Homo sapiens: one gene and its partners. The protein of the gene in region 1 interacts with the protein of each later gene in a biochemical or structural test. Each region holds a gene or a part of one and is shown on either strand. Other genes may lie near its edges. The genes, in order: ITGB1, HEXB and ANGPT2.

Region 1 (3,737 bases):
ATTTTAGAATTTTCAGCTTTTCTGCTCTGGTTTCTCCCCATCTTTGTGGTTTTATCTACCTTTGGTCTTCCATGATGGTGATGTACAGATGGGGTTTTGGTGTGGATGTCCTTTCTGTTTGTTAGTTTTCCTTCTAACAGTCAGGACCCTCAGCTGCAGGTCTGTTGGGAGTTTGCTGGAGGTCCACTCCAGACCCTGTTTGCCTGAGTATCACCAGCGGAGGCTGCAGAACAGCAAATATTGCAGAATGGCAAATGTTGCTGCCTGATCCTTCCTCTGGAAGCTTCGTCTCAGAGGGGCACCGGGCTGTATGAGGTGTCAGTCAGCCCCTACTAGGAGGTGTCTCCCAGTTAGGCTACTCGGGCTCAGGGACCCACTTGAGGAGGCAGTCTGTCCATTCTCAGATGTCAGACTCCGTGCTGGGAGAACCACTACTCTCTTCAAAGCTGTCAGACACGGATGTTTAAGTCTGCAGAAGTTTCTGCTGGATTTTGTTCAGCTATGCCCTGCCCCCAGAGGTGTTGTCTACAGAGGCAGGCAGGCCTCCTTGAGCTGCAATGGGCTTCACCCAGTTTTAGCTTTTTTTTGCTTTGTTTACCTACTCAAGCCTCAGCAATGGGGGATACCCCTCCCTCGGCCTCCCTGCTGCCTTGCAGTTCAATCTCAGACTGCTGTGCTAGCAGTGAGCGAGGCTCCATGGGTGTGGGACCCTCTGAGCTGGGCATGGGACCCTCTGAGCCAGGCGCGGGATATAATCTTCTGGTGTTCCGTTTTCTAAGAGCATTGGAAAAGCGCAGTATTAGTGTGGGAGTGTCCTGATTTTCCAGGTACCGTCTGTCACAGCTTCCCTTGGCTAGGAAAGGGAATTCCTTGACCCCTTGTGCTTCCCGGGTGAGGCGATGCCCCGCCCTGCTTCGGCTCACACTCCATGGGCTGCACCTACTGTCCAGCAAGCCCCAGTGAGATGAACCCAGTACCTCAGTTGGAAATGCAGAAACCACCTGTCTTCTGTGTCGCTCACGCTGGGAGCTGTAGACTAGAGCTGTTCCTGTTTGGCCATCTTGGAACCTCTTAAATTATTTTTGTTTTGTGTGATTGCAATTTTGGCATGTTTCTTCAGGTGCAATGAAGGGCGTGTTGGTAGACATTGTGAATGCAGCACAGATGAAGTTAACAGTGAAGACATGGATGCTTACTGCAGGAAAGAAAACAGTTCAGAAATCTGCAGTAACAATGGAGAGTGCGTCTGCGGACAGTGTGTTTGTAGGAAGAGGGATAATACAAATGAAATTTATTCTGGCAAATTCTGCGAGTGTGATAATTTCAACTGTGATAGATCCAATGGCTTAATTTGTGGAGGTAAGTAAAGGGCCTGAAGTGGTTGTAAGATGTGATCCCATCTAATGCCACGAAAAATCTTGAGTTTAGTTGGTGCATAAGTAGAAAAGGGGTAGCTTGAGGGTCAGTCTCGCCCCTAGGTATACTTTCTCACATGTTGTTGCTTATTTTACTTTTCAGTCAATACTGTGATTGTATATTTTTACCATTTTGAGAAATGATATGCTTAATTGCAGGAAATGGTGTTTGCAAGTGTCGTGTGTGTGAGTGCAACCCCAACTACACTGGCAGTGCATGTGACTGTTCTTTGGATACTAGTACTTGTGAAGCCAGCAACGGACAGATCTGCAATGGCCGGGGCATCTGCGAGTGTGGTGTCTGTAAGTGTACAGATCCGAAGTTTCAAGGGCAAACGTGTGAGATGTGTCAGACCTGCCTTGGTGTCTGTGCTGAGCATAAGTAAGTATTTCCTAATTGCTTGAAATAGTTGATACTTCCTCTTGGCTCTCCTAAGCCTGTATTGTTTCTAGAACCAGAACAGTGCCAATATTAAAATATACTGTAAATAAAATGCCTGCCATGTGGAAGCCTACTCTTTAATTCTTAAAAGTTCTTTCTCAACAGCTAGTATATATTACATGGTATGAAGTGTGTCATGTGAGAGTTGTACTATTATTTTGATCTGAATGTGCTAGATAATTGAATTTACATGGTAACCTTTATTTTGGCAATTAAGATTTAATTTAATTTAATTTGTCATTACCAATTTCTTAATTACTGTCTTTTGACAAAACTAAGCCAAATTAAAGATTTTTCCTCTTGAAGGATTATTATACTAGTAACATATTATTTAAATTATTATGATTTTGGCCGAGCACAGTGGCTCACACCTGTAATCCCAGCACTTTGGAAGGCCGAGACAGGTGGATCACTTAAGGTCAGGAGTTTGAGACCAGTCTGGCCAATGTGGTGAAACCCCATCTCTACTAAAAATACAAAAATTAGCCAGATATGGTGGTGTGTGCCTGTAATCTCAACTACTTGGGAGGTTGAGGCTTGCTTGAACCCGAGAGGCAGAGGTTACAGTGAGCCAAGGTCACACCACTGCACTGCCTGGATGACAGAACAAGACTCCATCGCAAAAAAAAAATTATTATGATTTTATGTTACATATTTAATATGTGATAGGGCTAATTTATTTTACTATCTTTTATTTCTTAATAGGGTTTTAATTTGAACTGTAATAAATCTTTAATTTTATTATGGAAATTAGCATCTTTTTACATAATTTTTCTATCCACAAATGTAATGTTCCTCTTCATTTATTGAAATCTTCCTTCATAGCTGTTTGTTCAATTTGGTCACAAGAGTTTAGCATGGGAAATATGTTTAAGCAAATATTTACTGAAATAATAAAATGTAAATATCATAATTTGTGTTTTTTGTAACAGAGAATGTGTTCAGTGCAGAGCCTTCAATAAAGGAGAAAAGAAAGACACATGCACACAGGAATGTTCCTATTTTAACATTACCAAGGTAGAAAGTCGGGACAAATTACCCCAGCCGGTCCAACCTGATCCTGTGTCCCATTGTAAGGAGAAGGATGTTGACGACTGTTGGTTCTATTTTACGTATTCAGTGAATGGGAACAACGAGGTCATGGTTCATGTTGTGGAGAATCCAGGTAGAAATGCGATGATTGCAGACATTCTTTTCATATCTTGTATGTCTTGTTTCTGCTTATTTAGGCCTAACATCCAGAAACAGCCTCCAGCTGGAATATTTTAGGTCAAGTTGGGAAATTTTTCATCTCTCAAAGCTTAAAATATTATCTAATTAACTGTATAAGAAATAAGGAAAAGAGAGTTCCACTTTTAAGTTTTCTGAGTGGAGAGTTTGAAGATTAAATACAGTGATTTATATAAGACGCTTAGTGATTTATATAAGACACTTAGAACGATGCCTGACACCAAGTGCATATTAAGAGTTTTTTGATGATTGATGATTTTAAAATTAGAGCTTGATTTAAGCTTGAATACTGGGAAAGATAATTTGTTAAAGGATATTAATATAAAGTGTTGAATTTGTTCAACTTCTCCGGAGGTGAAACTTTTTTTTTTTAATCTTAGTTTTCCTAGTAGCCTTTTTGTAGATTCTTTGGAATTTTCTACCATAGTGTACATGTTTTTGTGTGAACATAAGCTTTCATTTCTCTTGGGTAAATACTAAAAATGGCATTTTGGAGCATATGGTAAGCATATGTTTAACTTTGTTAAGAAGCTGCCAGACTCTTAGACTCCCATACTGTTTTGAATTATCAGCTAGGTGTTTTGCAAATATTGTCTCCCAGCCTGTGTCTCCTTATCATTTCATTTTTTTAAGTGTCTTCTGAACACCAC
Region 2 (3,015 bases), on another chromosome or scaffold:
GACAGAGTGAGACTCCATCTCAAAAAAAAAAAAAAAAAAAAAAAAATGGAATAAAAAACCTGTTGCATTGAAGTAGCTGTAGAGGGCTCCACACCATAAGGAAGACTTAAGAGTAACATGCCTGCTTGTAAGGGTTTAAACTGGGCAACATGACTCCTGAGATGGTAGATTTGTGGAGAATGTACATTTTGGTATGGCAAAGTAAAGCTTGAGGAAAAACAAGATGCAGAAGAAAATGGAGATTCAAAAAAAGACTACTGTGAAATGAGAACACCTTTAGTGAAAGAGGGCAATCAATGATTAAATAGGAAAGATTTTTCAAATAAAAATTCTCTCTGCAAATAGCTTTAGATGGAGGAGAAAGGTGGTAAGGTAAAGAAAGCCATTTTTAAAGGAAATCAGCTTCTTGAAAAAATTGTTTGCAATGGATAATTAAGATAACTTGTAATTAAGTTTTTAGGCTTCTTTTTACTACCTACAAACTTTAATAGTTTTAAGTCTGCACAACTGATGTTAGGCATGTATACTGCTCTAAATAATAAACTGAGCATATCAAACTTCTAATGAAATTTTAATCACTTTTTGCTTCAGGGAATCAAATCCAAAAATTCAAGATTTCATGAGGCAAAAAGGCTTTGGCACAGATTTTAAGAAACTAGAATCTTTCTACATTCAAAAGTAAGTTGTTTGAAAGCCTATTTCTGTATTAATGCTTTTTGTAAAAGTTTATTTAGTAATGTGCTTTATTTTTTACATTTTCTCTACATCCTTTGCCTAAGTGTAGATGTGAAAAATCACTAAAGGAGGCAATACCCACTGCTTGCTTTAAATCAGTAACATGGTGACTCCAAGTATTTTCCAATAGCTGTTGAAATATAGGAAGGCAGTCATCTGTTCTAAAAACTCAGATTGGGCTGGGCATGGTGGCTCACACCTGTAATCCCGGCACTTTGGGAGGCCGAGGCAGGTGGATCACCGGAGGCCAGGAGTTCGAGACCAGCCTGGCCAACATGGTGAAATCCCATCTCTACTAAAAATGAAAAAATTAGCCAGGCATGGTGGCAGGTGCCTGTAGTCCCAGCTACTCGGGCGGCTGAGGGAGAATCTCCTGGGAGATGGAGGTTACAGTGAGCTAAGATCGCACCACTGCACTCCAGCCTGGGCAACAGAGTGAGACTGTCTCAATCAATCAATCAATCAATCCATCAATAAATATAAAACTCAGCTTGAAGCCCTGGCTACCCTGTGAAGTCTTCACTACCATCCAGCCCCTGGAATTCATTCCATTTTGTCAATTCCAGGAACATATATTTTACTATATACCTGTGCTACCCAATACAGTAGCCATAGCCACAGGTGTCTGTCCATATGTAAATTAATTAAAATTAATGAAAGTTAAAAATTCAGCTACTCAGTTGCATTAGCCACATGTCAAGTGTTCAGTAGCCAGCTGAGGCTAGTGACTGCCATACTGAAAAATGCATATATATATATATATATACACATTTCCATCCCAGGAAGTTCTACTAGACCGTGCTGCTCTAGAGGGATTGGCAAACTTTTTCTGTAAAGGGTCAGAGAGTAAAGATTTTAGGCTTCATGGGCCACATACAATTGCCCATGGACCACATACAATTTTTTTTTAACTTAAAAAAAACCTCAAATTTTAAAACTTAAAAAAAAATGCTTTACAAATATAAAAACCATTCTTAGCCCATGAGACATACAAAAACAGCCTGCAAGCTGTAGTTGCCAACCCTTATGCTGTACCATTTATTTGGCAAGCCCAGATTCCAGCCTTTGCCTGTTCAGCTTTTTGTGTGATGCATTTAAGTGTTATTTATCTGCAGAGCACCTGGCATTATGTAAATATCTGTAAATATTTGTGGATTGTCAGTAACTGTTACATGTAATTTATGTGATATGACAGGCTAGATCGTGGTCCCTACCATTTTAAGACAGCCATAAAATTGTAAGAGATTGCTGTTTGTACAATTTCCTGAGTTGCCTACCAACTCAATTTGAGGCCACTTCTTCCTATCTTAGGGGCATGTTTAACTCATTCATTCAGCAAATGATTATTAAACCCCCATACTATGTTAGGTTCTGTATCAAGTGCTAAAAAGGAGGAACTACTTGTGACACTTCCCAACTTGAGCTGCTTCTGCTATAAAGCTGAACTATACTAAAAGGCACCTCTCAAAATGCAAGAAATCCTTGGTAGAAAATGTACATGTTTTAAATATATTGTTAAGCTTATGATCTAAAATAACTATAATTTTTTTGTAATACTAGGGTTTTGGATATTATTGCAACCATAAACAAGGGATCCATTGTCTGGCAGGAGGTTTTTGATGATAAAGCAAAGGTGAGCATTGTGAAGACTGCATCTGATCAATATAAGAGACTTAATTATTTTTCTTGGGGCAACTGGGAATTTGCAAGTCTAACTACTAGTATTACCTTTCTAGTGTAGTTAGTGACCACTTTGGACCTCATAGTTCCAAGCTAGGTTTGGTAGAAATAAGACTAAAATGCAAGTCTCAGCTTTAGTTAACTGAACCTATGTGGTATCCATATATAAGCAAAAGTTAAATATTCAAACCTAAGGTTGATGAAACTTTTAAGTCCCTAAAATGAGTATCACATGGCACTAACTCTGAAGAAAAGAGGAAAAAGAAAATGCAGATTTTTTTTAAGGATCTTAGAAAATTATGTTCCTAGTAATAATGCCTTAAACTTTCAATTTCATCTACTGTTCTAGGCCTAATAATATGTATTGCAATTTGTAACGTTAATAGCTTGCGCCGGGCACAATAGTTGAAGTATGGAAAGACAGCGCATATCCTGAGGAACTCAGTAGAGTCACAGCATCTGGCTTCCCTGTAATCCTTTCTGCTCCTTGGTACTTAGATTTGATTAGCTATGGACAAGATTGGAGGAAATACTATAAAGTGGAACCTCTTGATTTTGGCGGTAAGTGAAGCAGTTGGTCCAAGTGTTGTGGGTTACTGT
Region 3 (3,500 bases), on another chromosome or scaffold:
GAGTGTCAAGAGGGGGGACAGAGGATGCATGTGAAATGGGGATGCCATGGACACCGATGCAGAGGGACAGCCGCTAACCATGCAGCCCCATCACATTGTTTCATCTATGTTTCTCAGTCTAAGTGCAAGCTTCCCACCCCAGTGCACTGTCCCACCCCATGGCCCCCAGAATAACTGAAATATTCTGCAGAAAGATGAAAATATATAGTACTCTGGGATTATATGAGCCTCAGGTCATGGTTGGAAACATTAGGATTTATATTCCCTTTAAACATTTGCAGTAAAAGAAACTCATTTACACAGCAGGGAACAATAAGCTTTCACAAACCTCAATTTTCTCATCTTGAAAAATAAGTGGTGTCAATTGTTACTTCTAAATTCCCTTCCAGACTTAAGACTCTGTAAGTCACAATCTGATCCAGGGAGAGATAGACAGACTTGGATGTAAATTCTAGCTCTGCCATTTGTGGCTCTGGGCGAGTCATTTAACCTTTCTGAGAGCTCAGTTTCCCCATCTGTAACAGAACAATGATACCCTCAGCCTTGGGGGTTGTGACAACACAGGGACAGCCCCTGGGGTAGAACTTGGGACAGTAAATGGTAGTGGTCACCATTTTCACTGCCTTCAAAGACTACCAGACAACTTCTCTGCCTGGCAGGAGACCCGATTCTGCACTCATTTATCTAATTCAAGAAAAGAATGTTCAATTGGTCTTTGAGCACATCTTTTCCTGAAAGGCCAAAATACTGCAGCTTTAGTTTTGAAAAATTCATTTGGTTCTTCTACGAGAGAGAGACTGCAAGATGGCATTTATCAAAAGCATGTATGGTCATTTCCTTCCCTAAATTTCACAGGACACCTGACTCCTAACGGTTGTCTCTATGGTTTGCTATTTAACCCGTCACTTAATCATTGCCTCAGAGTTGAAGCAAGTCAAGTATTATTTGCTGAAAAACATCAAGCTTTATAGAAAGATATCAGGTTCCTGCACCATGCACCAGTGGACAGATTAAAGATATTAACTGCCCTTAGGTTTGTTGTAATTGGAGTGGTAAGGTCTTGGGAAGTATCTGAGGACTTCTGCTTTGCTGATCCTGATATAATCAATTTCAGCACTTTTACTCAGTATCTTCTGGCTGGGTAGATAACTCTATTTGAACACTATCTTTCTCTGCAAGTTTTATAGTCCAATTAACCATAATACTCCAGTTTTTACAAATCCTCTGTTCTTTTTTCTAAAAACCTGGATGAAGTACTAAGAAAATGTTCTAATAACCTTATCATCATCACTAATGGAATCAAAGCGAATACTCATATGGCTCAAATCATTTATGTGCTGGCAGTGACTCTCAGACATTTAAGAGTTTTGCCTCTGACTTCCATAACAAGATAAACTTGTTCTCTGAACAAGATAGAACATGTATTTAAGTACTGGTAACTTCATAGCAGTAATTTTGACACTGAAGAATCAAACATTCTTGGAACAAGGATAGGCTCACCAAGAGCCACGTCAATGCTTTCAACCCAAGAGCATACCATTTAGGATACAGAATTAACTTCAATATATGTACATGAATCCTCAAACCAAAGTAGCTTATTCAGCTGGTTTATGAAATAGATTTTTAAAAAGAAATATTGATAGAAGTGAGCAGCACTGACCATTTTGTTGACTGCAGGCAAATAAGAGGCAGTATTATTCATGAACTGATTTAAACTTGGAACTGTGTTGAGGGACTTTTGGCCTATTTACCAAAGGGTCAGGTTTCTCTGTTTTTGGCAGCATGATGTCAGTGGAAAAAAAACATAACAGGAATCAAAGAGACCTTATTCAAATCCTATATATCACTTAGAAGGTGAGTAACTGATCAAAATCGAACTTTGCTAAATCTTTTCTCCTTTCAAAAATGCAGAATTATGATACTACAGCAGAGTTGCTGTGAGATTATAGATAATATACACAAAGTATCTGGCAGAGTACTTGGATGAGAGTGGTGTGTAGCAATGATAATAAAAATCATAGCAATACAGAGCGGTAACAAGGGGTTAGCTTGTGCAGACTGATTTTCTACATCAGATTAATTTAAAATGAGGAAATAATTTTCTTCTTAATAAATGTAACTTTCATTAATGGCACCTATGTTTCCAAACATGAGTGCCACTGGGGAAGGCAATACGAGCTGGGTGACCTTCCTGGAGAGAGACCAGAACCATGCTGGGGAGAAGTCCCCTGCAGACCAGGCTGTTCCAGGGACAGTTCTCTGGTTGCACTGGCAATGAGGCATCAGGCAGCCACTGCACTTCCTCTGCACCCCTCTTTCCTCATGTAGGAAATGAAAGAACAGGAATAGCACTCTCTTGGTTCTCTTTTCGCTCTCCTCTTTAGGATTCTAACTCGTAAACAGAGAACAGTGTGCGTTGAAGCTTACCCTGCCAAATCGCCTCCATTATTCTCAAAAAGACCATGGGACACAACACAAGAAGAATATTTACAATTGGTTTTGAACCTTAACTTCAATATTTCCTACCTTGTATGTGGCAGAAAATTTATCTTACTTTCTGGAAAACATGTTTCGTTCTACTGTAATCTTTATTATTTAAAACTATTTATGTAATCTTATTTTCAGGGGTTTTTAATTTCATAATAAAACTCCAGCTGAGTTGAAATTGAGCATGCATGCGCTTAGCTTAAGAAAGAATTCTGTGTTCTGGACAAAGTTTAAACCCACAGAGCCAGTTTAAGAGCAGAAATAAAAAGAGTTGCTTAGAGAAAAACTGTGGGCAGTGAGCTATGTACAGAGAAGCGTGAAGTCATGCCCTTGAGGCCAAGGTGCTAAGCCAAGCCCAGGTCACACACCTTGCACCAGGACACTGGAGCCTCAAGGCCCTTGTGCTCAGATGTGAACCAAAAAATCTGATTAGTATTGCACATAAAGGAAGCCAAACAGCCCCACAGTACGAGAATGTAACAGGAGTCCTCCAAACCCTATGATCAAAGAGTATCCCCTTCACATAGCTCTCTGTGGAGGGGCAGGGGCTGGCATTTAGTGAAAGGTTTCAAGGCTGTGAACACAAGTCAATGGTTTTCTACAGGATGGAGATGTGGGGTTCGGGGCCAATCTGCCAAAATGTGCCATTCATAATGAATCTCTAAAAAAACAGCAATCTCTGGACCAGCCATCAGGGTGGGGTCTTTAGCCTGGAACAGATGATGACAAGTGAGTCATATTCTCATCAACACTTTATATTATATTACTGTTTATGTTTCACCATCATTTTAATCCATCACTTTCAATTTATTTGAAACCATCTGTTTCTTAGACAACCCCGATGGTCTACTCCGTGCCTTATATCCCAGAGAACCCTCTCGGCTGAGTCCTGCACTCAGGGTCTACATTCCTCCTGCTTCTGCTACGTAAGGGGGGAGTGGGGGGGCTCTGTCACTTATACCCTGCATTCCTGTTTGCAGGCCTACTGTGACATGGAAGCTGGAGGAGGCGGG

The links.
Region 2: the proteins of ITGB1 (region 1) and HEXB form a complex in vitro, tested with the Homo sapiens proteins (one study listed by BioGRID).
Region 3: the proteins of ITGB1 (region 1) and ANGPT2 form a complex in vitro, tested with the Homo sapiens proteins (one study listed by BioGRID).

The regions. Positions count from the first base shown.
Region 1 is NC_000010.11:32,909,508-32,913,244, reverse strand, and holds part of ITGB1 (integrin beta-1 isoform 1A precursor), read left to right. Parts: intron 1-1,120; coding exon 1,121-1,359; intron 1,360-1,574; coding exon 1,575-1,797; intron 1,798-2,789; coding exon 2,790-3,022; intron 3,023-3,737.
Region 2 is NC_000005.10:74,715,996-74,719,010, forward strand, and holds part of HEXB (beta-hexosaminidase subunit beta isoform 1 preproprotein), read left to right. Parts: intron 1-591; coding exon 592-678; intron 679-2,295; coding exon 2,296-2,368; intron 2,369-2,801; coding exon 2,802-2,976; intron 2,977-3,015. UniProt on the Homo sapiens protein: Hydrolyzes the non-reducing end N-acetyl-D-hexosamine and/or sulfated N-acetyl-D-hexosamine of glycoconjugates, such as the oligosaccharide moieties from proteins and neutral glycolipids, or from certain mucopolysaccharides.
Region 3 is NC_000008.11:6,514,746-6,518,245, reverse strand, and holds part of ANGPT2 (angiopoietin-2 isoform b precursor), read left to right. Parts: intron 1-3,467; coding exon 3,468-3,500. UniProt on the Homo sapiens protein: Binds to TEK/TIE2, competing for the ANGPT1 binding site, and modulating ANGPT1 signaling. Can induce tyrosine phosphorylation of TEK/TIE2 in the absence of ANGPT1.